3 separate regions of the Homo sapiens genome follow, and regions 2 and 3 are each linked to region 1. Evidence: fine-mapped expression QTL. A gene starts in region 1. Each other region holds a variant in brackets. All regions are shown on one strand. Distances are from middle to middle. Region 1 holds the start of HRNR (hornerin). Region 2 overlaps CCDST (cervical cancer associated DHX9 suppressive transcript). Region 3 overlaps CCDST (cervical cancer associated DHX9 suppressive transcript).

Evidence for each region. PIP is the estimated chance that this variant, and not a neighbour inherited with it, causes the effect.
Region 2: its variant is the best candidate, but not a certain one, in a credible set for the expression of HRNR in visceral fat (GTEx, PIP 0.71).
Region 3: its variant is the best candidate, but not a certain one, in a credible set for the expression of HRNR in coronary artery (GTEx, PIP 0.87).

Annotation. Positions count from the first base shown.
Region 1 is chr1:152,220,880-152,228,414 of GRCh38, reverse strand. It overlaps HRNR (hornerin), which reads left to right and starts at 4,222. Exons shown (of 3, transcript NM_001009931.3): 1 at 4,222-4,272; 2 at 5,137-5,299; 3 at 6,925-7,535. The coding sequence starts at 5,162. All of the region lies in intron 1 of CCDST (cervical cancer associated DHX9 suppressive transcript), which reads right to left.
Region 2 is chr1:152,333,827-152,341,361 of GRCh38, reverse strand. It overlaps CCDST (cervical cancer associated DHX9 suppressive transcript), which reads right to left. Exons shown (of 8, transcript NR_186765.1): 5 at 5,923-6,023; 6 at 3,273-3,373; 7 at 152-275. Among named protein-coding and RNA genes, the nearest start is that of FLG, 12 kb to the right of the region's middle. The variant A/G (reference allele first, on the strand shown) is at 3,752.
Region 3 is chr1:152,191,346-152,198,880 of GRCh38, reverse strand. All of the region lies in intron 1 of CCDST (cervical cancer associated DHX9 suppressive transcript), which reads right to left. Among named protein-coding and RNA genes, the nearest start is that of CCDST, 5.8 kb to the right of the region's middle. RefSeq lists an enhancer at 2,072-2,572. The variant G/A (reference allele first, on the strand shown) is at 4,303.

The DNA.
Region 1 (7,535 bases):
GCTGAATGTTTCAGGTAGTAGGAACTAAGGGATAGAGACTATGAATACCAAGCCAGTAAGAGCATCAAACATCAAGATAAGAACACACAGCCTAAGTAACACAGTGAGACCTCATCTCTACAAAAAAATATAAAAATTAGACAGATGCAGTGGCATACACCTATAATCTCAGCTACTCGGGAAGCTAAAGTGGGAGGATCACTTGGGCCCTGGAGTTGGAAGCTGCAGTGAGCCATGGTTGCACCACTGCACTTTAGCCTGGGCAACAGTGAGACCCAAAAAAAAAAACTATATATATATTTTTTTCTCATATATATATATATATATATATATATATATATATATATATTAGAGAAAGATACTGATGGAATAAATAAAAGGATACATGTATGAATGAGCTCTGGATTCCCAGCATTTGAAGCATTTTGGAGTTCTCGGAAGAGAAAATGGAGGATATTAAGGGAGAAAGAAACAACTCAATAGGCAGACCAGTACTGAAGCAGAATATATTCCAGGGTGTGGGTCTGAAGCTGAAAGATATGTCACCATGCCTGTCTCATCCCCAGGGAATATATACTAAGCTGTAAAATTATATCGAATCCATTTTTTATTTTTTGAGATAACAGTAAAAAGGACTCAAAAGAGGATATAGAAGGAAGCACTATTTAACCAGTTTCATATTATAGCTAACTTCTTTTGATTCCATTTACCCAAAATCATGACCATCAACCTTCTCTTATATACATACCCCTATTTTTTACATAGTCTCCTCATTTATAGAGACTAGGCTACAAAGAACTATAGAAATTCCATGAAATAATTTCTGTAAGGAAAAAGGGCAGAAAAGGCAATGAAGAAAAGATCTGCTTTAGAATTTCCCTATGACCCAGCAGATGGTGCAATAGGCACATTACTCTGCCTTCCAGACAGGCAGAAAAAAATGAGTGCACACAGATGGTACTGGAACTTCACTGTTTATCCTTGCTAGTTTTGTTTGTTTGTTTTTCCTAGGTGAAACACTCCATTCCTGAAGAACTGTTTCCAAAACCCTTCCTTTACCAAGACATGAATATTTCCCTACTTGCTGACTATTCCTAGGAAAAAGCAGATTTGAATTTGAATTCTGTCTTCTCCACTTAACAGCTAAGTGACTTGAAACAAGTTACAGATTTCATCTGAGCCTCAGTTTTCTCATCTGCAAAATGGAAATATAATATCTAGATAACAGGGTTGTTGTAAGAATTAATGAAACAATGTACACCCACACACAAAGCACTGTGCTTGTCATAAAAAGGAATGTAATTTTCATTCTTCTGCCAACACACAGAGAAAGGCACTCAAAAACCTAGAACATGGCACATACCATAGAAAAGCTTTTCTCCTGAAACCTATCATCTCCAAGTGGAAAAACCACTAACCAAACCCATGATGGAGGAATCTTCATGTCCAACTCTGTTACTATGGAGCACACACTCTAAAAAAAACAAGAAACTGTTTTGAAAGTGACTTTTGTGATAATCTAGTCCTACTCTTAATAAGTAATTCTCAATGGGGAGAGAAGAGACCAAGACGCATATGTAATATGCTTCTTATTTTCATGATACAAACGAGGAAAAAAAGCCCAACAAAATTCTAGTTGGTGAGCATATCCAGAAAACAACGTAATGAAAGAATTAATTTTTTCTTTAATAGTAAAAAACTATTCATATGATACTTGACAATAAATTCAGTTACTTCACAAAGAGCTCACTGCATTTTCAGTCAATGCAAATATTAAATATTTCTCCCTTACATCAAATCAAAATTTATCTCCCTTTTACGAGCAGCCAAAGGTCCCTTGTTCTGTTCCCTTTCCCCACCACCCCACACATGCTGATATTTACAAATTCACCTTCACTCTTGTTCTCTCATGCAAGAGTTAGTGGTTCTGATGTCCCACACTTTTCAGCCCTTCTTTTCTCTCAGATCCTCCTCTCCCAGAGAATCTTCCTGAAAAGCAAATACAGAAGAGGAGCAAAGAGTGGTAAACTACAGCCTGCAGTTCATAGCTAGCTTGTCATCCATTTTTGTGTAGCCTACAGGATAAAAAGGTTTTCTACATTTGTAAGCGGTTGAAAAAATATATGATATGTGAAATTATATGACATTCAAAGATCAGTATTGATAAATAAGTTTTACTGAAACATAGCCATGCTCATTTGTTTACATATCATCTATGGCTGCTTTTATGCTACAATAGCAGAGTTGAGTAGTTGCAACAAAAACTATCTGTCCTGCAGAGATAATATTTTGTACCATCTGGCCCTTTACAAAAAAAAAAGTTTGCTGGCCCCTATTTCAGGAGAACACTAGCCCCAAGAGCACGTTCACCTGGAATAGTCTTCTCTCACAACCCTCTCCTCCCTTCGTGACAACAGCTGGTTCCTGCAGGAAATCAGTCTTCACTCAGCAAATTCCACCCCCCTTTACTCCCACAGTCTCAGCCACACCTTTAAAAAGTCATTGTTCTGATGAAGCATGAAAACCTGGCCCAATCAGATGTCCAGAGGAAACACGGCTACAGAATGGATACTGACTCTGCAGCCCTCTGGGCAATTCTTAAAAGAAAACACATAGCCTAACAATAGTTGAATTTGGAATCATGTAATTTATCACTTGCCAACAGTTGCTACCACACCTTCTCAAATCCTGATGACCATATTGCACAAGTTTTAAGTCCATGTAACTTCACACACCTTCAGTGAAATTTGTGTTATATGTTCACAATGGAAGAAATGCAGAGCGAGGGCCTCAGAAAAAAGCAGAAAGCCACTCATTGATTCTCAATGCTAAGATTCCGTTTATATTCAGGTAAAATCATGTCCTCTGAGGCAAAGATGGCAAGAGAGAGGGCAGACCCTAGTCCTCCTGTGAAAAGATGGAAGTTGGCCAATGCAGAGGACTATAGTCTTGATCCTTGCTTCTCTTTCAAATGAATTCAAACTGACATTTATTGGAGACCGTTATGTGACAAGCAGTATACTAGGTCTCCAAATGACATAAGGATAAATAATGTCCATTCCTTATTCTCAAGGAGCTCATAGCCTAGAAATGAAATAAGCCCATAGACAAATGTGTGTGTCTGTGTGTGAATGTGTGTGTTTGTGAAAGGCAAGGATATACAACAAATAACTAACAGTAGTTATTTTTGGCTAGTGGCTTTAAAGGTATTTTGATTTTATCTTATTTGCTTATCAATATTTTCTAATTTTTATATTAAACAATAATTGTATAGTAAAACAATTTTTAAAGATTACAATATAGTATGATTGATACAACAATAAATATGAATAAGGTACACAATTACAACTCCCTCTTGAGTAATTCAGGAAAGATTTTCTATGGGAAGCCTAAATTGGATTTTGAAGAATAATTAGTTCACTAGGCAGACAATGAGGAAAGACATTCTAAGAAAAAATATGAAATAACATATCCCATGGTATATTGAGGAAGTTTGAAATATTACTAGTTAATTACTGTTGGAGTACAAAGAGAAATATGGAGGGGAGAAATGGAGCTGGAAAAAAGCCACAGCCCAGATCATGAGGAACCATGGATACCATGCTAACAAGCACGCATTTCTTCCTAAGGTTATATGGTGTTTGAAATGAAAGCTATGGTGATGAATGGCCAATAAGGGGTCTGGTAAATTGAGGTACTTAATGAGTTAAAGGATGGCCTGGAGCCATTATCCAATTCAAAAGGTAATAACAATACCAAAGATGACACTTTGGCTGGAATACCATTTAAGAACATTTAGCTTAGAATGGGAGAGTTTGACTAGATGATCTTTACAGTCCTTTTAATCATCAATTTCCATGATTTTTTGACATTTGGGCCATGATGTCCCTGCACACACTCCATTCAACTTCTATTAAAATCCACACAATTTGTTGTCAATATATTGTGCTAGATAGTTTGATGAATACAAAAACAGGCCTTTCTGCAGTGTCCTGACCCTTTGGCAGGTGGGGCTGAGAGTAGCCCAGATTTGGGAACTGCTAATGCAATCTTAGGTGAACCTGTAAGGAAGTCAGGAAGAAGGTAAACACCTGGGAGGTGGAGATAGAGGTGGAGATGGGCTTGTTTAGGAGTAAATTAGGACATCTCAAAATTAGCAACTCCTCCCTAAGAGGGACCATTATTCCCTCTATAAAAAGGCCACTCTGCCCAACTCGCAGCACCCTGAAAGCTGTTTCTGTCTCTACCCTACTTGTTCCTCTGGTGAGCTAGGTAAGTGAGCAGTTCAACTCCGCTCAAGGGTACTTAGGGCTATAAATTATGAAAGTCCAGGATGTGCTCTAAGGCAAAGAGGCACTAGATACAAGGCTTCTTTTTAGTATACTCTGGGGAACTTTGGTATAAGTTTAAATTTACTGAAAAGAAAAATGAAACAAAGACTAGGACTATGTATATTATCTCCTTTCTTTGAGGTCGCTTCCCTTATAACATGGATATCATGGGGTTCTAATTATCCACAGGCAGGTTGCCTTCTTTACAACTGAGCTTTTCCTCTCTATTGTGTAATAAGGTCTGAGGGTCACTTCCTGCTTGGAGAATGAGAACAGAAGCTGGATCTAATAGCAGTTACCCTTAGCTTCATATCACCTAGGCTTGTTGGCTTTGCTCACATTGTCTATTTTCTCTGACCTAGAAGTCTTGAGAGTTCAGTTCAGCCATTGATGCTCCTTAGGTTGAGTAAGGCATGTCATGTAGATGATGGACCTATGCCCACAGTATGCTTCGAACCTAGAAAGAGGAAGCAGATGAAGTGGAACACTCAGGACTTCTACAGCTCCAGAACAAAGCTAATATTATCCCTGGTAATGGCAGGAAGCCAAAAACAGAAAGTCATTTTTCCTACATTCATTCAGGAATGGAAATAAGACCTATGGATTATATTCCTAATTTCATCACTCTCTTGCTACATGGCTTGAACAAGTCATTCAACTCTGAATTGGTTCTTGATTACAACAGAATGAATTTAATCATGACTGACTAATTCTGAACAATTATTATAAATAATTAGAACTATTTATGTGTTTAAACAAGAAATAAGAATAGTAAGGGGTTGGTCTCTCTTTTTCCTCCCTTTAGGTTACTCAAACTTGCAAAAAAAAAAATGCCTAAACTCCTACAAGGCGTCATCACTGTCATCGATGTTTTCTACCAATATGCCACCCAGCATGGGGAGTATGATACGTTGAACAAGGCAGAGCTGAAAGAACTTCTGGAAAATGAGTTTCATCAAATTCTGAAGGTAAGAACTCCACGCCAGGATGGAGTTATGCAGGAATTTTCTTCTTTATCCCTTTCCACCTTCTTGTCACATATGTCAAACATCCTAGAGGATTGTCCTTACTTGGTGAGAGAGAACAGGGTTTGGTAAAAGTTTGAGATAAGGTCAAAAGCAGATCCGTGATGGTTTCCATAGCATAACTAACGGAAGTGACCTTACTAAACAACAAACAAAACCCACAGGTTAAATAATGTCCTATCTAAGTGACTAATTCCTACAAACCCAGACAGTCCTCAGAAAAACTGTGAAGTAGATTTCTGAGTTCAGGAAATTGGCATTTACTCCTGAATCACAAAAGAATGTGTCCACCACCTTAAAACTGTCAGGTCTAGATTTGATAGCTTAGATATTTGGGACCTTATATCAGACTCCTGAGTTTCAATTCCTTAAATTTGGATTTCTGTGGATTTCAGATATGATATTCAGATATCAGATGTCAGATATTCAGTGTGTCAGCTATGAATCTCATAATCTTCCCCACTAACCTTTTTCCTTCATCTTTTTGCCCAAAGCAAAAACCTGGTGTCATTTTTTATTGTCTCTCTCTCAGCAGACACCACTACCTTCTAACCTCCATCTAACTCATCAATAATCTCTCAAAACAACCCATTTCTCTTCATCACTATTATTAGTCCTCTGGTTCAGGCCACCTACTACTTCTACTCTCAGCATTGGATGCAAATATAATCATTTCACTCCTCAGCTAAAAATCCTTCAATAGTTCCCAATTGCTCTTAAAATGAAGTACAAAGTTCCTTAACATAACTTAAAAGTCATAATCTAGTCCCTATTTGTCTCTCTATCCACATTTCTTGACTCTTCAAACTCTAAATCTAGCAATCCTGAATTTCCTTCAGTTCCTTGAATGCTCCATAACTTCTCTCACCTCTAGCCCTTTGTTCATATAATTCCCTCTGCCTAGAACAATCTTTTCCCCTTCTCTTTCTCTTCCTACTTCTTCATTTGGCTAATCCTAATCCATCCTTCAAAAGGCATCATTTCCTCTCATTAACCTTTCTAGGACCCCCAATGTTTCCTCTCTGATGTACTCTTGTAGAAACCTTACCACAATAAATTATAATTTTAAGTTTGTATATCTGGCCAACTAAACTTTAAATTCCATTTTTTTTCAGGAAGCAAACTTGTTCACTTCTTTATACTCTCATATGACATAATGGTAGGCAACTAGTAAAATAATAAATCTTTGTTCAGTGAGTAAATTAAGTAGCTAGTTAATTTAATTGGATAAATAAAGTTGATATAATTAATGTAGGTATAAAAACATATTACTTATAAATTAGCTAATCATTCATATTTGACCCATTCTTTACCAAAAATAATCAGCCCTCTTGTTTCCTTTCATCTTCCAGTTGCATCCTATTCTAGCTGTTTCCCACCACATTATTCATTCCATATTCCTTTTTCTCTTTCTGCTCAGGATACAGAAATGCAGCCTAAAGGACTGTGTGAATGAGTTCCATATAAATAACCCAAACATTTACATTTTCACATCTTTCCTTCAGTTCGTTAGCCAGATGTATTGTCCATACTAACAGAGCTACTCTTTGTACCTTTCTCTTATACAGAATCCAAACGATCCAGATACTGTGGATATCATCTTGCAAAGTCTGGATCGAGACCATAACAAGAAAGTGGATTTTACTGAGTATCTTCTGATGATATTCAAGCTGGTTCAGGCTCGTAATAAAATCATTGGCAAAGATTACTGCCAAGTTTCAGGGTCAAAGCTGAGAGATGACACTCACCAGCACCAAGAGGAACAAGAAGAAACTGAAAAAGAGGAGAACAAACGGCAAGAATCCTCTTTTAGTCATTCAAGTTGGAGTGCAGGAGAGAATGATTCCTATTCCAGAAACGTCAGAGGAAGTCTTAAACCTGGGACTGAATCCATATCCAGAAGACTGAGTTTTCAAAGAGACTTTTCTGGCCAACATAACTCCTACTCAGGTCAGTCTTCCAGCTATGGTGAGCAAAACTCCGACTCCCATCAGTCTTCAGGCCGCGGCCAATGTGGGTCTGGGTCAGGGCAGTCTCCCAACTATGGCCAACACGGCTCTGGCTCCGGACAGTCTTCCAGCAATGACACACATGGGTCTGGCTCAGGCCAGTCTTCTGGCTTTAGTCAACACAAGTCTAGCTCAGGGCAGTCCTCTGGTTACAGTCAGCATGGATCTGG
Region 2 (7,535 bases), 110 kb before region 1:
CATAAACATGCACCAGGTATGGTGGCTCAGAGGCCATGGCAGAAGGATTCCTTGAGGGCAGGAGTTTGAGACCAGTCTGGGCAATGAAGTGAGAACCTGTCTATACACACACAAAAAAATAAAAAAATTAGCTGGGTTTGGTGGACTGTACCTGTTGTCCCAGCTACTTGGGAGGCTGAGGTGGGAGAAGCACTTGAGCCCAGAAGTTGAAGGCTGCAGTGAGCTATGATGGTGCCACTGTTCTCCAGCTTGGGCAACAGAGTGAGACCCAGTCTCTAAATACAAACAAACAGACATGCAAGCCTGCTAGTAAAATAAGCCAATATATTACTGTAAATAAATAAAATTGTCATCAAAACTATTCTCCTATTAATTATATGCATGAAAATTACTGAACACATCATTATTAGTTCATACCATGCATTCATTCAACAAAAACATGCCGCAAATAAAAAACGTTTTAAAAATTGATTTTAATTATGAAATGATACAGAAATATATTCTTCCTTTGAAAAATTAGAATATTTGTAGATATATGCTACAGCCTCCTCTGACCTTCATCCCAAATCCAATAACTTCTTTTCTGTACCCAGGAATAATCACTGAGGAATAGGGCTTGATTCTTTCCAGAAAACTTAAAGATATTTTTATAGACATGTGTGTACACACAGAAAACACCTAACATTTAGTGTACATTTTTAAGTGGTATGTTTAAGTGAGAATGCAGATATCTCTTCAACACCAATTTTAATTCCTTTGGCTATACACTCAGAAGTGAAGTTGATGGCTCATATTGTAATTCCATTTTTTTTTAAAGACCCCCATACATTTTCCAAACTGACTCAGACAACTGGTCATCTTAACATGCTGTATTTCACAATTTATTCAGATTTTCTTTTATATCCTTTTGTAAGTTTTTTTCCTATAAAAGTATTTCACTTTTTCATTAGGTTTATTTGGGGGTTTATTTTTGTTGTTAATACAAATGGAATTTTTCTATCATATTTTTGAATTGGTGATTTCTATTGTATAGGAAGCTGTGAACGTATTCATTCTGATTGTGTATTTGACTATCTTGCTGCACTCTTATTATCTTTGAATGTTTGTCAATTAATTTTGGGGGGTTCATTTTGTCTGAAACTGATGAACAAATTATCTTTCTTTCAACATTGATTCCACATTTCTAAATTATTTATTGCGGTAAGATACACATAATATAAAATTTATCATTTTAATCATTCTTGGTGTACCATTAAGTAGCATTAGTACATACATATTGTTGTGTAACAGTCAAAACCTTCCATTTCCAGAAATTTTACATCTTCCCAAGCTGAAACTCTGTATCCATTCAACAATAATCCTCCATTCTCCCTTTCCATCAGCAGCCATCATTTTCTTTTCTGTTTCAATGAATTTGACTACTCTAGGTACCTTATCTAAGTGAAGTCATACAACATTTGTCCTTTTGTGTCTGGCTTCTTTTGCTTGGCATAATTTCTTCAAGACCCAACTGTGTTGTAGCATGTATTGGAATGCCATTCCTTTTTAAGGTTGGATAATATTTCATTGTATGTAAATACCACATTTTGTTTATCCATTAACAAAACGGACATTTAGGCTGTTTCCACCTTTTGGCTATTGTCGATAACACTGCTATGAACGTGGGTCAAAAAGTATCTGTCCAAATCCCTGCTTTCAATTGTTTTGGATAACTACCCAGAAGTGGAATTGCTACCTCATTTCTTATTGATTAGGACTATCTAAATATTAGTACTCATAGTAGGCATCCTTGTCTTCTTTCTGACTTCAATGACATTGTTCTAATGTTTCAGTATTTGAAGTAGAGTATAATGTTTGCTATAGATTTCTGTTAGATAGCCAATATCAGATTAAGAAAGTTCCCTTCTATTCCTAATTTGCTGAAAAGTTCTACTACAAATGAGTTTAAAATTTTATCAAATGTCTTGTTCAATCTACTGAAAGGATTATATGTTTTTTTCACTTATTTTTAAATGATATTAATTGATTTTCAAAAGTTAAACAGATCTTGGAATCTTTTGGTAAACTCTATTTGGGAAATAAATTTGGGACACTCCTGGAATTGATATGCTAATATTTTATTAGGATATTTGCATTCTGTGTTCATAAGTGAAATTAATCTATAGTTTTATGTTCTTGGGCTTTCACTATCTAATTTTTGTACCTGACAAAATTGGTTGGGAAATTTTCATTCTTTTCTGTGCACTGGAATAGTTCATGCAAAATGTGGATTTCTTAAAGGTTTGGTAGATCTAGCTAAAACTAGTGGGTGGGCCTCCTGACTTTGGAGTTTGAAACAGTCAGTCTTTCATGGTTGAAAATAGAAAGTCAGATATAGATTCCTTGGCAATTGACATTTTCTTACTAACTTATCCATTTTGTGTTGATTTCAACATTACTGGTACTTAGTTGTTTATAATATTCAATTTTTTCAGCTTTTTGAAGGGATAACTGACAATAATATTCTATTTTTAAATCATTAGTTTATCTGTAGTTATTTTTGTTACTTTTTACTGCTCTTTAACCCTTTGCAAAAGGTTGCAAAATATATTATGCCTTTAATTACCAAAACACTTTACCTTTAATTCTATTTTAATCTGCTGTTAACTGCATTAGTGTTTGCCTGCCATATCTTTTACATCCTTCTCTTTTAATCTTTACTTTGTCATTTGTTTTAGGTGTGTTTTTAATAAACAATATATAGTCAAATATGGGTTGTTTATTTATTTAATTGGAGTTTATCTGTTAATAGAAAAAATCAGCCAATCATTGCCTTTAAAAAAAATTTAAACAACCTATAGAAAAGGCAAAGTATGAAACAGGATGGCAGAAATACTATGTTAGTTAAATGAACATAATTAAAATAACATAATTTCAAAAATGTAAATAGCCTAAACTAATGAAATAACAGAGACATTTATAGTTGATAAAAACTACAAAAAAGATTCAACATGTTGTCTACAAAATACATGCTTAATAATTATATACATATTATATATAATTACATATATAATCATATATAATTAATTCAGATTGATAACAGGATGCAAAAACTATTAAAAATCACATAACCTATCTTTAAAATTTGTCACATTAATATACTAAAAAAATTAAAATAACATGTTCATCTCAATGCAGGAAATACATTTGACAAATCTCAATGCATATCAAAGATAAAAACTCATACTAGAAATAAATGGAAATTTATTAATATATCAAAAAATACAGTATACCTTATAATTAATGAAGAAATCTTAGAGGCATTCCCTTCAGAAACAAAATCAGGAGCAATATCATTATTAGTGTTTGCCATAGTGGGGTGCCCTGCCCTATGCTATAAGGAAAGAAAGAGAAATAAATACATTGGTAGAAAAAAAAAAAGAAAACAAATGACATTATTTGCAGGTAAGATAATATGACTCTCTAGCTAGAAAAAAGCACCTAATCAACAAAGTATTACAACTAATAAGATAATTCAGCAAGTTTATCAGAAACAATCAAGTTACAAAAATTAAAAGCACTTTTCTCTCCAACAATAACCAATTACAAAATGTATTTAAAAATAAGATATCATTCAGAACAGCAACAAAAAATGTTAAATAACTAGAAAATAATGACAACATATAATACTTCCATGGAGAAAATTTTTAAATCTAATAAATGACATAGAAGATTATCTGAATAAATGGAGTGACATTCCATATCTTGGGGG[A/G]GATGACTTAATATTATAAACATGTCAGTTCATATTAATCTATACATTCAACACAATCACAAATACTTCAAAATATTTGTGTTGAATTTCTTGAGAAGTTCAATAACCTCAAGTTTTTATGGAAGAATAAAGATCCACGAACAGGTAAGTCAACATTTCAAGAAAAAGGCAAAGAATGGGTACTTGCCCTTCCAAGTATTAAGACATACTACACAGTCAAGTAATAATAACAATGTGATATTATTGCAATGACAAAAAGATCAGTGAAACATGATAAGGAGCTTAGAAATTAAGTATGTTTATATGGGAACTTAATATATAGTAAAGTGGGTACCATATATCAATGGGAAAAGGGCAGATTAATAGAAGGAGTTGCAAACCTGGCTCATGCCATAGATAAAAACAAAATTGGATATTTACCTAAAGTCACATACAAAGATAGACTGCAAATGAAATAAATATCTGAATGTGAAGCTTAAAACAACAAAGTAAAGAGAAGAAAATATGGGAAAATACCTTAGTAATCTCAGCACAGGAAAGAACATTGTAGATAGAACTTTACAGGCACACATAATACAAAACTAGTGATGACTTTTATTACATCATAATTAAAGATTTCTGTTCAGTGAAAGACACCACGAACAAAGTTAACAGAGAGAAGACACATTGAAATTATTTGCAGTGTCTAAAAATAACAATGTACTAACGTCTAGAACATACAATGAACTTCTTAAAGTAAAAAAGAAAATTAACAGAAAAATGGACAAAGTATTTGAACAGGCAATGTATAGAATAGGGTAATCAAAATGGCTTACAAATATACATAAAGATGTTCAAACTCATGGATAAGGGAAATCAAAATCAAAATAACAGTGAAATGAGCTGGAAAAAGTTAGGAAACTAGATATTGCTAGGTGTTGGCTGGGATGTGGGTTTAGGAAATCTCATGTACTCCTGGTAAGAAAGTAAAGCTGTTCTGGAGAGTTATCTGACAGTATCTAGTCAATATCAAGTATACATATAGCCTACCACCCAGAAATTCTACTTCTGTGTTTATGACCCCCAAAAATGTCTCCCAGAGATCCATAATGGACATATGTAAGAGGATGTTCGTCGCAGCATTATTTTTAGTGCTGAGGAATTAATTAGAAGCAATTTGAGTGTTCATCACCAGGGAAGTGCAGAGGTATACTGAGTAGATGCAAAACAACAGCACAATTAGAAGCAATGGACTAGACTTACATACTGCAACATGGATACTAAATGAAAAAAAAAGGTAAAAAAAAGAATGAGATCTAAAAAAAATAGCACTTACATAAAAGTAAAACTCTATGAACATAAAAGTAACAATAGATACTTTACAAACACCTGTACAAGTTAAGCCATATACAGTAAACTCATTAGAATAATTTATCTGTTGAGGGAGGAGGAGAGGACTGGGAATAAAGAATGGGGATGAAAGTTAACCAACTCTTCCACAGAAGAGTCTGCATAGCTCAATAATTACAATGTGCCATGAAATAAGGAATATGATTAACTCACATCTCTATACCTAGGATTTAAAAAAAAAATTGATATCCTGAGTGCTGATGGTCTCAAGTCAGCAAAAACTCTGGGGCCAAAGTCTATGAATGGTTAATTTTGCAAGCTCACATAACTGTCTGCTACAATAGAATATCCTTGGTGAAAGCATAGGAGAGAATAAAAGGGCTGAGACCTAAGAACAAACAGATTCTGGATTTCTGACTTCAGAAGACAAAGGAAAAGAAAGACAAGGAAAATTGAATCATTTTCTAGAGGGGTGTTAACTTAAAAATTACACAATTTATAAATTTTGAAAGGAAAGTTATATTTCTCATAGAGGGTTACAGTTGCAAAGTTGACAGGCAAATTCTGACAAGCTGGGAAGCCTGGCCTCTGGCTGACGCCAGAAAGGCAGGTACTTCAAAAGAGGAGGGATTGGGATAGGAACTTTATGCTGAATGGGTTGACTAAACATATTCAATGGATTACAGAAGGAGCCATGAATATTCGTGGTCCTCCTAATGCACACATACTGAATAAATGTACATATTACATCTGACCAATGTTCACCTTGGGGTGGAGACTTAACATTTAAATATATTATAATAAGGCTTTATAAGGTCGTTTCAGGACACAAACGCACTCACGTATGCAGCCTTTGTAAACTGGCCAGAATCCGTCCACGGTCGGTGGTCTTCTTATCAGGAGAAAGTTATTGAAATAGCCTCTCGTCTAATCAAAGCTGTAGCTATAGTTTGTGAAACAGGGGGATGGAGTCAGTGTCTGGCAGTGAATGAGCTACAAATTGTTTTCATATTGCTTACCTGAAGGCCAGTGCTTGTTTAGCTGCTGAAGAAAAATAGAAACCTTATGGCATTTAGAACATAGTTTATTCTTTAAGTGCAGAAGTGTGTGACTTAACCCTTGACTGGCATGGTCTTAGCTCCTGTTTACAATTTGGTATCTTACTGCCACAAAGAGTCTGTTCTATCAGTCTTACATTCTCTATTTTCACATCAATGCTGGCCAGTTGTGTCTAAACACTGCAAAAGGGAGGGTATATAACAAGATATGTCTGACTTCCTGAGCCATCATGGCTGGGAACTCAGTTTTTAAGATTTATCTAGGGTCCATTTGGCCAAGATTGGGGTGGGGAGGGTCTGTTCAGTCAGTTGAGGGCTTTAAGATTTATTTTTAGTTTACAGGAGGAACCATGTTCAGACTACCAAATAGTTTCCAATGCTGAGCAGGGCTAGGGCCACAGACACACACTCCTGTTTCCATAGAAATTCCTCAGGCAGGCCTCATGTACTTAGCCAGGACCCTGCTCTTGCCCCCAAAGGAATTTATCCTTTTAAAAGTATAATATTCCTCTTATCTGACTGTTCTACTGCACAGTGGGGTAACCACAGTTAACAATATCATATACTATATTTCAAAATAGCTATTAATAGAAGAGAGAATTTTGAATATTCTCACCATAAAGAAATGACAAATGTTTGAAGTGATTGATATGCTAATTACCCTGATTTGATCATTACATAATGTAAACATGTATAGAAACATCACTTAAATATAAACATGCACAATTACTAGATGTCAGTTAAAAACAAAATAAAACTTAGAAAAGTATAATGTGATGATACTGGTTCAGGGATCTGATCTTTAATCCGAAGGAAAAGAGGAGACATGAAAGAACTGAGGGGAGGGCTTGTTATTCCTCTTCCTCCCCTTTCTCTATTACCACCCTTGCATTAACATGCCCCTGGTTATCTTGCTATGTTTTTTATATTTATTATGAATGCAGAACACAGCAAAAAGTAAATAGCAATTATATCAGTTCTAATTCTGCTTCAAGTAATAGAACAACTCAAAGCTTATTAAATTAAAGGGAGAATGTATTGGTTCACGTAATTGAAAAGTCTTGAAATGGGGCTAGCAGGCTGTACTCACTCCAAGGCTCAAAGTATATCATCAAGATTGGGTGAGTCTCTCAATCTCTCAGCTCTGCTTTTCCCTCTGTTGACTACAGTTTTGACATGTAGTCATGAGATGGCTGCAGCAGCTTGGCCTACATTCTTCCCTGTTCAAATCTCAAGGTGCAGGGGCCAAGGGGTTGGGGGGAGAGGTGGAGGAGGAATGCTATGTCTTTATTGGTAGTTCACACAATAGTCCTGAGATTCACTCTGCCTTAGACATCCCAGGTCACATGCTTACCCATCCCTGTCCACTAACATCCAAGCAACATCTTCACCCTCAT
Region 3 (7,535 bases), 30 kb after region 1:
ATATGTACACTACATTACATAAATTTTAAAATGTAGTTACATATTTTATACATATATATACACATATATTTATACACATACATCACACATATTTACCAAATTAATTTTGGTGGTACTTCTGATAAGAAAAAAAAAAGATTAGAACTTGGGGGTGAGAAACACAGGAGACTTAAATTTACCTGCAATGTTTTATTCATTTTAATAAGACCTGAAGCAAATACAACAAAAAGTTTACTACTGTCAGCTCTAGATGGTAGCCATGCAATTACTCAAGATAAAAATAAAAAGACTATTTTTTAAGAACAGGCTTAGTGGGAACTTAAGAGTAGGAGAGCTAAAAGGCCATTCTGTGTGATCAATGAGTGACATTTCAGGGTTCACAGCTTCAGAGGTGGAGCAGTTATGGTTGATGACAAGGTCCAGGGGGTGGTCATTTGAATAGCTGGCTGAGGTAGAGTGGAGGTAGAGATCAATAGAGTGTAAGAAATGATGGATCCAGATGCATCACCAACATGACTGTTGAAGTTTTCCAGAATGATTATAATAGCTAGGGTGGAAAGAAATAGACAGTTGCCAAAGTCTTCACTGAAGATTATGTGGTTATAGGGGAAGGAGATCAGTCAAGGAAAAAGTAAGGATGGAAAGAGGGTGGAATGTATGTGCATCAATGAAGGAGTGTTTATTGAAAGAAGCCACAGTGGTGAGCAACAAAATCATGTTCAACGCACCTCTAGCCACAACACAACAGAGGGAGAATGTGTAACCTGTACTTGGAACTGCTGAAAAGTAGTATCATTCAGGAAAAGTCTAGTTTCGGTTAAGGTGAGGAGGTAGTTACTTCAAAAATCCTACTGAAACTCTAACTTTGTAATTCATTGACCCAAAGCTATGGGTTCAATCAGAAAGGAGCAGTAGATTTTACCAATAAGCCAAAAGAACAAGAAGGAGAAGGAGGATCATGAAGAGGAGGAGGGAGAAAGAAAAGAGGAAGGAAGGAAGGGAGAAAGAAAACAACAAATGAAAAAAAAAGAGAGAGAAAAAAGAAAGAGAGAGAAAGAAAGAACAAATGAATGAAAGACAAAAGAAAGAAAGAGAGACAGAGAGGAAGAAAGAACAAATGGAAGAAAGAAAAAGAAAGAAGAAAAGAGGAGAAAGGAAGAGGAGAAGGAGGAGGAGGAAGAAATAAAGGAAAGAAAGGAAAGAAAGAGAAAGAAAGAGGAGGAGGAGAAGGAGAAGAAAGAAAGGAGGAGGGGGGAGGAGAAGAAGATGAGGAGGAGGAGGAAGAGAAGAAAGGGAGAAGAAAGGAGGGGAAGGAGGAAGAGAAGAGGGAGAAAGGAGAGAGAAGGAAGGAGGAAGGGGGAAGGGGAAAAAGGAAGGGGGAAGGGAGAAAAAAGAAGAAGAAAGAAGAAGGAAGAAGAGGAAAGAAAGAAGAAAGAAGGAGAAGGAGGAGAAGGGGAAGGAGGAGGAGGGGGAGGAGGAAGAGGAGAAGAAGAAAGAAAGAGAGGAAAGAGAGAGGGGAAAGAAAGAAGGAAGGAAAGAAAGAAGGGAGGAAGGAAAGAAAAGGAAAGAAAGAAGGGAGGAAGGAAAGAAAAAGAAAGAAAGAAAGAAAAGCTCTCGCTCTCCCTCTCCCTCTCCCTCTCCCCACGGTCTCCCTCTCCCTCTCTTTCCACGGTCTCCCTCTGATGCCGAGCCGAAGCTGGACTGTACTGCTGCCATCTCGGCTCACTGCAACCTCCCTGCCTGATTCTCCTGCCTCAGCCTGCCGAGTGCCTGCGATTGCAGGCGCGTGCCGCCACGCCTGACTGGTTTTCATATTTTTTTGGTGGAGACGGGGTTTCGCTGTGCTGGCCGGGCTGGTCTCCAGCTCCTAACCGCGAGTGATCCAGCAGCCTCAGCCTCCTGAGGTGCCAGGATTGCAGACAGAGTCTCGTTCACTCAGTGCTCAATGTTGCCCAGGCTGGAGTGCAGTGGCGTGATCTCGGCTAGCTACAACCTCCACCTCCCAGCCGCCTGCCTTGGCCTCCCAAAGTGCCAAGACTGTAGCCTCAGCCTGACCACCACCCCGTCTGGGAAGTGAGCGTCTCTGCCTGGCTGCCCATCGTCTGGGATGTGAGGAGCCCCTCTGCCCGGCCGCCATCCCGTCTAGGAAGTGAGGAGCGTCTCTGCCCGGCCGCCCATCGTCTGAGATGTGGGGAGCGCCTCTGCCCTGCCGCGACCCCGTCTGGGAGGTGAGGAGTGTCTCTGCCCGGCCACCCCGTCTGAGAAGTGAGGAGACCCTCCGTCCAGCAGCCGCCCCACCTGAGAAGTGAGGAGCCCCTCCACCCGGCAGCCGCACCGTCTGAGAAGTGAGGAGCCCCTCCACCCGGCAGCCACCCCGTCTGGGAAGTGAGGAGCCCCTCCGCCCGGCAGCCACCCCATCTGGGAAGTGAGGAGTGTCTCCGCCCAGCAGCCACCCCGTCTGAGAAGTGAGGAGCCCCTCCGCCCGGCAGCCACCCCGTCTGAGAAGTGAGGAGCCCCTCCGCCCGGCAGCCGCCCCGTCTGAGAAGTGAGGAGCCCCTCCGCCCGGCAGCCGCCCCGTCTGAGAAGTGAGGAGCCCCTCCGCCCGGCAGCCGCCCCGTCTGGGAAGTGAGGAGCGTCTCCGCCTGGCAGCCACTCCGTCTGGGAGGGAGGTGGGGGTTCAGCCCCCGCCCCGCCAGCCGCCCCGTCCGGGAGGGAGGTGGGGGTTCAGCCCCCGCCCCGCCAGCCGCCCCGTCCGGGAGGGAGGTGGGGGTTCAGCCCCCGCCCGGCCAGCCACCCCATCCAAGAGGGAGGTGGGGGGCGCCTCTGCCCAGCTGCCCCTTCTGGGAAGTGAGGAGCCCCTCTGCCCGGCCACCACCCCGTCTGGGAGGTGTACCCAACAGCTCATTGAGAATGGGCCATGATGACGATGGCGGTTTTGTGGAATAGAAAAGTGGGAAAGGTGGGGAAAAGATAGAGAGATCAGATTGTTGCTGTGTCTGTGTAGAAAGAAGTGGACATGGGAGACTTCATTTTGTTCTGTACTGGGAGGGGTTCTTCTGCCTTGGGATGCTGTTGATCTGTGACCTTGCCCCCAGCCCTGTGCTTGCTGGGGCATGTGCGGTGTCCACTGAGGGTTAAATGGATTAAGGGCGGTGCAAGATGTGCTTTGTTAAACAGCTGCTTGAAGGCAGCATGCTCGTTAAGAGTCATCACCACTCCCTAATCTCAAGTACCCAGGGACACAAACACTGCGGAAGGCCGGCCGCAGGGTCCTCTGCCTAGGAAAACCAGAGACCTTTGTTCACTTGTTTATCTGCTGATCTTCCCTCCACTATTGTCCTATGACCCTGCCAAATCCCCCTCTGTGAGAAACACCCAAGAATGATCAATAAAAAAAAAAAGAAAGAAAGAAATCTAAAGATCAATTTGGGCAGAATTGACATCTTCCCAATATTAATCCAATAATATAGTATATCTCTCTATTAAGTATTCTTTAATTTCTCTCTTCAGGGTTTTGTAATTTTCATTATACAAATCTTGCACAGATTCAGTTAGATTTATTTCTATGTATTTGATGATTTTGGAAGCTATTGTAAATAGCATTTAAACTTTTAAACTTTCTGATTGTTCACTGTTAGTATGTAGAAGTATAATTGATTTTGGTATATTGAGTTTCTATCCTCAAATTATCCTAAACTCACTTATTATTTCTAGTAGCGTTTTAAATAGTTTTTTTATTTTGTATATAGGTGATTATAAATCTTCTAGCAAAGAGAGATTTATTTTTTCCTTTCCAAAAAAAGAAAAAAGAAAAATGGGCAAACACCTTGAACAGGCACTTCACAAAAAAGATATCCAAATGGCTAAGAAGCATGTGAAATGTAGTCCATTTCACTTGTCAATTGAGAACAGGAAATTAACACCACGATAGTATACCAATACACATCCATTGAAATGGCTAAAATAAAAAAGACAAACATCATGAATGTAGATCAACTGGAACATTCATACACTGCTCTTGGGAACATAAACTGTTACCATCAATTTGGAAAAGTGTTTGACTCTATCTTTTAAACCTGAACATATACAATTGTTATATTGTATGATTGCCAATTTCATTCCAAATTAAATATTCAAAAGAGGAAAAAAAAAAAAAGAAAAGAAAAGAAAAGAAGAAAGGGGGGGTGGGGAGGGGAGAGGGGGATGGGGAGGGGTGAGGAGGGGGGATGGGGGAGGGCAGGGCAAGGAAAGGAAAAGAAAGGGAAAAGAGAAGAGAAGAGAAAAGAAAAGAATGGCAGTGAT[G/A]ACTGGGGCCCTAATATATTGGACATGAAACTGCCAACTGCACCAAAGAGGAAGGAATGCTGAAGGACATTATCACAAAGCTAAGGGCCAATCAGTAAAATCTTGGAAAATCAAATTGGCTCAGAAAGAGTGAAATGACTTAAGGGAGTAGATAAAGAAATTTCAGAATATTTTAAATGAAGAGATGGTTTTGGTTCTGGAAACAGGTCTGGGAAAGTATCAAGGAATAAATGTAAAGAGGGAACCACATAAAAGGAAACTTGAGGTTTAGAGTCCAAAATGGACCCATATTGAAGGGAAAACCCAATATATTGAGACCTAAAACCTCTTAAAGATAGAATTTGAAAAGTGACCTCTCTTAAAGATAGATCAGAATGATGAAAAGGAAGACAAGCAAGAATCTAAGAAGGGAACAAGAATAATTGATAATTTCAGATGTCCTCTCATGCCATTTTAGGGCTAAGAGAAACTCAGGGGTCTGAATTTCTCCAACAAGCAAGGCCAAACATGTGAAACCAAGTTTTCCACTCCACAGCACTGAAGGGCCTCTCTACAGGGTTTGCAGTCATCTTGGTGACACTAAGAAAAGGAGACACGTGTCCTCTCAGCTCTGGGATTCCCATACGTACAGACAGGTTTGTGGTGTTCTTATTCACCACTCCTCACACTCAGTCTGGGGCAAGGGAAGAGCACAGGCCCAGCCCATACACTACAACCTACTCTACTTTTTCTCCAAACTCCTCTCCACTCTTGTTTAGATGGTCTTTTTTCTATTCTGGATAGGGGTGGAGTAGAAGGAAAAAAATGTTCCCAGTAGCGTCTTCTTTCAAACTTTAATGTCTCATACCTGCACCTTGCCTTTTGAATTTAGAAGAGAAAAATATTGATCTCTTTGTCTGCGGATCCCCCAGTTTGGACTAAGGGACCCTCAGAATAAATCTGTGCAAAACCCAGAGGGGGACTGGGAAAGACCTCGTTCATACATATCTGGCCATGGTTGTTTTTGTAGCTCTAAAATATTTCATTTGCATGTATTTACAAATTCAGCAAAATAAAATTACTTTAAAGTATATAATAAATGACATCAAATCCACCTTTTCTCTGTTGATGGGGGTGAGGCAGTAAAAATACCAAGTGCCTGAAATGGTGGGGCACAGGAACACAGGGATGAAAAACGTTTTATGGTTAAACAGTCTGATAAAACCACCAAACCCTTCTGCCCCACCTCAACAAGACACACTCTTGAAATGAAATGTCCCATTGTGTTTACAGAGAGGGAGAAACAGACAGTGAGGAAGGAGAGGATGGGAAAGTAGAGGAAGAAGGCTTTTTCTGCCTTAATAACAATGTTCAAAGGTTTGCCTGGCTTCACACTTGATTGTCTTCTCCCTCAAAAAAGCAAAAGCAAGGTAGCAACAGAGTTCTTTCAGTTTTCTGTGCAGATTCACATATAGATAACTAAGTAGTAATACTTCCTTACTTGTGTCAAAGAATTTGTGTGCACATTCCACTGGAAATAATTCCATCTGGACCTGGTAACTCCCTTTGGGGTGACTATATCTCCTGCAGGAACTCAGTCCTCACTCAAAAAATCCCAAATTTCCTTCAATCCCATACCCTCAATCACACCTTGCAAAGGTCATCCCTCAATGAAGTCTGGCCACCTGTTTCAGATCAGCAGCCCAAATGGCAATAGAGCCTATGTTGTTTCAATGGCCCACTAAATATTAACAGCTAATAATAGCTAATATAGCTAATAATAACATTTGATGAGCATTTACTATATGCTAGCACTGCTCTAAGAACTTCCCACATATTAATCCTCACAATAACTCTGTAAGTATTATTCTTACCCATATATTATAGATGAGAAAACTGAGAAACAGAGAAGTTAAGCAGCTTTCCCAAGGGTACACTGCTAGTAAGTGGCTGAGCCAGAATTTGAGCCCAGGCAGCCTAACTCCAGGGACCATGTTCTTAACCATTACATGATTCTTCCCCTTGGAAGAGGACAGAACAGATAATATGATGGTTACATTTAGATACACACAGTTTACAATTTGCCCATGGCCCTGGCTCCCAATAACTTCTCATTCCTTTAGCCTCACTGTTCATGTTTGATGTTTTCTGTCTTCATATTGAAAATGCAACACGTTACATTGTGTTAACTTGGCATAATGGAGTAAAAAACAAGGCTTCAGTGGGAATACAATCCTCATGTAAAGTTTAAGAATGGTCAAGACCTGTACTCATGTCTTCATCAAAATTGACTCCAAGTATCCAACTTAGCAGACCAAATGGATGGTGTTAGCACTAACAGAATTCAAGAATTCAGAAGGTAGAATAGATCAGGTTTAAAGAAATAAACTTAGCTCAGGGCATTCATTCATTCAACAAATATTTTTAAAGCATTGAATGTGTATCTGAAACTGTTGTACATTCTGGGCATTCAACAAGGAGGCAGAACAAGTCCTTGCCTCCTGGCAACATTCATTCTAGGGCACACTAGAAAAAACTGAAAAAGTAAATAAGTAAGGAACACAATGCTGTGAAAAAATAACCAAGGGAACCTCTTTCATATGGGGCATTCAGGGACAAAGCAAATTTGAGATGATCAAAGATAGGCAGGTAGATATACAGATCTTAATGACACATTGTCATTGTGCCTTCATGCCAGCTTCCCAAGAACCATAAAATATTTAAAAATAATTTATGATGTTGTAATGCAAACTTCTCAAGCTGATGCTCCAGGCTCTGCTCCAATCCAGCCCTGCCTATCTATCCTCTTCCCACCACCACTCCCAAACACATCTTCTCCATTCCACTTAGGCTAATCTCCTTACTGGCTCACAACATAACAAGTTCACCCCCAACCCTGTTCTCTCCCCTACACCTGTTAATTCTACCCATCCCTCAAGACCAGGCTCAAGTTCCACCTTCCTCATTCTTACCCACTCAGGCTTACCGAACACCCTTCTCCTTTAAACAACTAGTTCCCAGGCAATTAATTACGTAAAAATAGTCTTCTGTCCTTCGCGGCTGTTTCACATATGCCATAACCCAGGACTTTTAACACAAGGCACCACAATATCCTCCCAGCAAGTGTAGGCATGAAGGGAAAGGGGTGTGGCACATGTCCAGAGTTCCCTGGGCCAGAGGTGAAGAGAACTGACTCAGGCTCAGAGAGGCAGCTCAAGGGGAGCAAGCACAGCGAACAAGGGGCACAACTCCCA